Linked DNA regions of Homo sapiens. The protein of the gene in region 1 purifies or fractionates together with the protein of each later gene. This does not show direct contact. Each region holds a gene or a part of one and is shown on either strand. Other genes may lie near its edges.

What was found. Proteins that work in one complex are often made in the same cells at the same time.
Region 2: the proteins of DQX1 (region 1) and PRR14L purify together in Homo sapiens (affinity purification with mass spectrometry; one large-scale study listed by BioGRID and IntAct). This does not show direct contact.

The regions. Positions count from the first base shown.
Region 1 is NC_000002.12:74,517,627-74,520,583, reverse strand, and holds the end of DQX1 (ATP-dependent RNA helicase homolog DQX1), read left to right. Parts: intron 1-549; coding exon 550-669; intron 670-837; coding exon 838-1,028; intron 1,029-1,353; coding exon 1,354-1,544; intron 1,545-1,981; coding exon 1,982-2,138; 3' UTR 2,139-2,453; downstream 2,454-2,957. UniProt on the Homo sapiens protein: Might be involved in RNA metabolism; it is missing helicase motif III and may not have helicase activity.
Region 2 is NC_000022.11:31,733,097-31,736,752, reverse strand, and holds part of PRR14L (protein PRR14L), read left to right. Parts: intron 1-3,656.

The DNA.
Region 1 (2,957 bases):
ACCTATACCTACCTCTCCAGCTTTATCTCCTGCCATTCTGCCACGTCATTTCATTCCCTCCACCCATACCAGATGGCTTGCAGTTCCCCAAATATGCTATATTATTAACTTACGTGCCATGCTGTTGCCACAGTCTAAAACATACTCCCTGCCCCGTCTCCACTCGGCTAATTCCTACTCAAATTTCAAATACTAGCCCAAGGGTCCTCATCGTTTTCTCTTACATCACTCACATCCTCACCACCTAAAGCCTGGATTAGGTATCCTCCTCTTTGTTTCCACAGTACCATATACAAACACCTATCATGCTTATCAAGTCTGCTTACCTGTTGGTCTCTCCCACCAGACTTGAAGCTCCTTGATGGCAGAGACTGTATTTCATTTACTTATCCTCAATGTTTAATAAAGTGCATAGCACCTAGAAGTTATCTATGTCTTTTGAATAAAGTTCCCAAAGGGACACTTCTGCCTTTTCAGCATTCTACCTGTACTACTATCCCTTCCCATTTCCCAAATGGCAGATTCTACCTTCCACTCTTCTGCCTCCAGCTGCCCCTGGGTTTACCCGTCCTCCACTCAGTGCAGAAGAAGCTGCCCTGCGTCGGGCCCTGGAACACACGGATGGTGACCACAGTTCTCTGATCCAGGTGTATGAAGCCTTTATACAAAGTGAGTTCTGCATCCTTTTATAGAATCCCAGATTTTCCAAAGAGGGGAAATTTTATGCAGCCAGCTGACAGATCTCTATGCTCAGAAAGAGGAGGCCCTTTGGCTAAGGGTTGGGTTATTTCAGGGGTCTCAAGGACTTTAGTTTAGCTGGTCCCTTTCCTCTCCTAGGTGGAGCAGATGAGGCTTGGTGCCAGGCTCGAGGTCTGAATTGGGCAGCATTGTGCCAAGCCCATAAACTTCGGGGAGAACTCCTAGAACTCATGCAACGAATTGAACTTCCCTTGTCCCTACCAGCCTTTGGCTCTGAGCAGAATCGCAGAGACCTTCAGAAAGCACTGGTGTCAGGATACTTTCTCAAGGTTAGAGGAAAGGGTGGGGGTGAGGGTGATCAAAGGAGCAAAAGGCAAAGAGAACAAATATTGGTAAGCCACTTTGAAATCAGGGTCCAGGTGGCCATTCAAAAGATTCTTTAGAACCAGAAAGGACTTTTCCCTTGAGGATTTGAGGTACAAGGGGCTATGGTAAATGCCATGAGGTATAGTAGAGACCAGACAACACCTAGAGGTAATGCTTTACTTTTCATGCTCTCATCACCCTTACTCTTTCTCAATCCCCTTTTATTTTTTTCTACTGCCTGCCTCTTCCCTTTTATTTATTCCGTCAATATTTCTGCCTTTCAATAAGGTGGCCAGAGACACAGACGGGACTGGAAATTACCTTCTCCTAACCCATAAGCATGTGGCCCAGCTCTCCTCATACTGCTGCTACCGAAGCCGCAGAGCTCCTGCCAGACCCCCACCATGGGTGCTCTACCACAATTTCACCATATCCAAAGACAACTGCCTTTCCATTGTTTCTGAGATTCAACCACAGATGTGAGTTCCCTGACATCCCTCCTATACTGCCTATTCCTCTCCCTGGGGCCAAAATTATGGCTGGGGAGTTAGAGAGACAGAGGAAGGGATCTTAGTGGTTAGTAAAAACATGATCTGAGGAGACAGGATTTGTGGAAGGGCTGGTGAGAAGTTTAAAAGTCTGCATTATAAGAGAAGATGCACTTTTGGAGACCTAGGCAGGAGGAGTCCTTGAGGCTAGGAGTTTGAAACCACCCTGTAGTCCCAGCTACTTGGGAGATTGAGGTGGGAGGATTACTTGAGTCTAAGGCTAAGGATTACGGGAGTCTAAGGCTACAGTGAGTTATGATCATGCCACTGAACTCCAGCCCAGGTAACAGAGCGAGACCCTGTCTCTAAAAAGAGAGAGACAGAGAGAGAGAAGATGCAGATCATCTAATTATGACTCTCTCTATTAGGCTGGTGGAATTGGCCCCTCCATACTTCCTGAGTAACTTGCCTCCCAGTGAGAGCAGAGACCTTCTGAACCAGCTAAGGGAAGGAATGGCAGATTCTACAGCAGGGAGCAAATCATCCTCAGCCCAGGAGTTCAGAGATCCCTGTGTCCTGCAGTGACCTGCCTGCCTATGGAATGGAGCTGGGTTCATCTCATCACATTAGATTATCCCTCAGGGTGACACCAAAGCACCCAGACAGATTTAGAAGCCCAAAGTTTAGGGTCAAATGTAAACCCTGGAACCTGAGTCCCAAGAAATGGTAGACTGGGAATGGAAAGAATGGGGTAAACCACAGTCTACATAGGGAAGGACTCTTTCCTTAGCCTTCTCTTATTGATTGGAGAGGGACTGACATGCTCCTCATTCTCTTAACTTTGCCAAACCCATTCTTGTACTCCCTTGTGATCTATAAAAGATTTTTCTATGATGCCAAGTTTTAGTTTGGTCCTGCAGTGCCATATACAACATCCATAAATCAGTGATGATATTACAGTAAATAACCAGGGCCAGCTCCTCCAACTATATAGTCTCTAGCCTCTTCCCATCTCCAATCAGGCCTTCATGCTATGATCGACATAGTTGTCACTAGCACAGACATGAGTTGTCTGGCTACAGTTGGTCTCTAGCCTGGCCTCTCTTCCCTCTGTCACAGTGCACCAGCCTCCAGGGGACAAAGGATGGGGGTGCTAGAGGAATCAGACAAATTCTTCCCTTTCTTCCTCATACAGCTTAAATCCAATTCCTTTTTAAACCTTAAGGCTAATGCAACCATCCCCTAACTAGACTTTCTATTAACAAGCTTCCCAGCAGCCCAGACACACCCACAAGGGGAAGTCTTTCTAACAACTTCAGAGACATCATGCTTTCCTTTCTTTCTTCCTAGGTTCTCCTTCCTTCCCTTCCCCTTTTGTGCCCTCGGAATTTTTTTTTTTTTTTT
Region 2 (3,656 bases), on another chromosome or scaffold:
ATGGTCTCTTTTGGAACAACTCAGCTTTGCCATTGTAGCATAAAGTGGGCAGAGGCAATACATAAATGAATGAATGTGGCTGTATTCCAATAAAACTTTATTAGCACAGGCTGCTGGCCTGAGGGCTGTGGTTTGCCAACCCCTGCTCTAGACCCACCATCAGGTTCATATGTTCTTTGGGCTGCCTAGGCTAGGCTCCCATCCCGCTCTTGATACATATATCTTTTCTTTACACAGGATAAAGGGCAGTTAATTGTTGTTAGTGGGCTTCATACAGTGACTATGATTAGGAATGAATGAAGCATTAAGTAACATTTGAACATGATATTTGAGTTTACACTGTGATGCCTTTTTTTTTTTTTTTTTGAGACAGAGTTTCGCTCTTATTGCCCAGGCTGGAGTGCAATGGTGCGATCTCAGCTCACTGCAACCTCCACCTCCTGGGTTCAAGCAATTCTCCTGCTTCAGCCTCCCGAGTAGCTGGGATTACAGGCATGTGCCTCCACACCCGGCTAATTTTTTTTTTTTTTTTTTGAGATGGAGTCTCGTTCTATTGCCCAGGCTGGAGTGCAGTGGCGCAATCTCAGCTCACTGCAAGCTCCGCCTCCCAGGTTCACGCCATTCTCCTGCCTCAGCCTCCTGAGTAGCTGGGACTACAGGCATGCACCACCACACTTGGCTAATTTTTTTTTTTTTTTTTGAGATGGAGTCTTGCTCTGTTGCCCAGGCTGGAGTGCAGTGGCACAATCTCAGCTCACTGCAAGCTCCGCCTTCCGGGTTCACGCCATTCTCCTGCCTCAGCCTCCTGAGTAGCTGGGACTACAGGTGCCTGCCACCATGCCCGGCTAATTTTTTGGTATTTTTTAAATAGAGACAGGGTTTCACCATGTTGGTCAGGCTGGTCTCGAACTCCCGACCTCAGGTGATCCGCCCACCTCAGCTTCCCAAAGTGCTGGGATTACAGGGTGAGCCACTGCGCCCGGCCAATGCCCTATCTTTTAAAAATACAGTTAAATAGGTAAAAGGCTAAGGATCCCAGAGTTCCTATTGTGTTACTTCTTGATGTGGTGGGCTGAGTCTAACAAGAAAAGTTTCTTTTTTTTTTTTTTTCCAATTTAGGGACCTGCCACTTCAGGAGAGAAAAGTTTTTTAATGTAATGTTTGATATAAAAGCATGCGTAATACACATAAAGTATAATGAACACACACATGTATATATGTGTTTATATATGCATACATATACATACACATGCTTACATAACAATCAACCTAAGAACTAGATTACTATCTCAGTGTTCTTTTTTTTTTTTTTGAGACAGATTCTTGCTCTGTCACCCAGGCTGGAGTGCAATGGCACGATCTCAGTTCACTGCAAGCTCCACCTCCCAGGTTCATGCCATTCTCCTGCCTCAGCCTCCCTAGTAGCTGGGACTACAGGCGCCCGCCATGACGCCTGGCTAAATTTTTGTATTTTTTTAGTAGAGACGGGGTTTCACCGTGTTAGCCAGGATGGTCTCGATCTCCTGACTTCGTGATCCGCCCACCTCGGCCTCCCAAAGTGCTGGGATTACAGGCGCAAGCCACCGCGCCCCGCCACCCTGTTCTTTTTTAAAATCATTCCTTTTCTCCCTCCCAGCTCCACCAGTGTATATTCCATTTTGAATTGTATAAAGCAGAATGAAATTTAATTGATATAAATGTTAACATTTTGTACTCAGTTTCAAAAAGTGATCTCCACAATTGAAAAGAAACAGAAATACTTACGGGGAAAGGGGAAACGGAAGACCTGCAGGTTTTAGCAGGTCAATTAGAATTGACTTTGTTCCAGGAAAAGCCAATTTGCTCTTAATATCATTAAGGGAAATGTGTTATCTGGACTGAGAAGTGGTGGTCATGCTCTGTTGTGTGCTGGTTAGGCCACAGCTAGAGTATTATACTTTCCTGTTGTTGTCATGTGTGTGAGAGGTATAGAAAACCAGGAATGCATTCATGGATAAGTATTCACACTAATGACACAACCTGAAAATATGCATCTGGAGGCCAGGTCATTGGGTGTGTAACTTGTGAAAGAGAACAGTCAAGAGACGTGAGAGAAGCCTTCAGCAATTTAGAGGTCATTCAGCAGAAGTGGTCCTGTGGGGCACAGTTAGGCCAGTGGAAGATGTGGGGCAGCAGCAACAGCTCCTAATCACTCTCAGGTCACAGGACCCTTTGGAAATCTGAACACTGCAGACCTTTCAGAAAAGCAGACATACCACTTGCATACCATTTCAGATTTGCAAACCCCAGGCATCCCCTGATCTCAATTTATAAGAGCTCTTGCTATATTGACAAAATATCCCACAGTCAAAAGACAGCTGACAAATTGAGAGAACATATTTGCAATGTATATCAGAGATAAAGGGTCTATATCTGTAATACATGAAGAACTCTTGAATTGAGGAATGAAGAACCAAACCCAATAGAAAAATGATAAGACTTGGGCTAGGTGTGGTGGCTCACACCTGTAATCTCAGCACTTTGGGAGGCTGAGGCGGGAGGATGATGAGGTCAAGAGATTGAGACCATCCTGGCCAACATGGTGAAACCCCATCTTTACTAAAAATGCAGAAATCAGCTGGGTATGGTGGTGCATGCCTTTAGTCCCAGCTATTCGGGAGGATGAGGCAGGAGAATTGCTTGAAACTGGGAGGCAGAGGTTGTAGTGAGCCGAGATTGTGCCACTGCACTCCAGCCTGGCGACAGAGTGAGACTCCCTTTCAAAAAAAGAAAAAGAAAAAAATGGGAAGACTTGATAATGAACTGTGTGTGTGTGTGTTTGTGTGGTGTATGTGTGTGTGTGTGTGTGGTGGTGGTGGTTAAACATAAGAGATGGTCAGCCTCGTGTAATTAGAGAAATGCAAAGTTAACCAGAGATACCACTTTTTTCCCTTTGATTTAAGGGTGTCGCTTTTTGACTATCAGATGGGTGAAAATGAAAATGTATGACAACGTATCTGGTTCAAGCAAGGCTATGAGGAAACAGACATTCTAATACATTGCTGGTGGGAATGCAAACTGATACAACCTTTCTGAGGAGCAGTTTGGCAACATTTAACAAAACTATTGGTGCCTCGACCTGTTCACCGAACACTTTAAGGAAACCTGCCTTAAAAGATAGACTTCTAGGCCTGTAATCCTAGCGCTTCGGGGGGCCGAGGCGGGTGGATCACCTGAGATCAGGAGTTCGAGACCAGCCTGGGCAACATGGTGAAAGCCTGTCTCTACTAAAAATACAGAAATCAGCTGGGCGCAGTGATGCATGGCCGTAATCCAAACTACTTGGGAGGCTGAGGCGGGAGAATCGCTTGAACCCCAAAGGCGGAGGTTGCAGTGAGCCAAGATGGCACCACTGCACTCCAGCCTGAGTGACAGAGCGAGACTCCGTCTCAAAAAAAAAAAAAAAAAAAAAAAACAGTGGCCAGGCGCGGTGGCTCACACCTGTGATCCCAGCACTTGCGAGTACGAAATGGGTGGATTGCCTGAGGTCTGAGGTCAGGAGTTCGAGACCAGCCTGGCCAACCTGGTGAAACCCCCATCGCTACTAAAAATACAAAAAATTAGCCGGGCGTGTGGCGGTCGCCTGTAATCCCAGCTACTCGGGAGGTTGAGGCAGG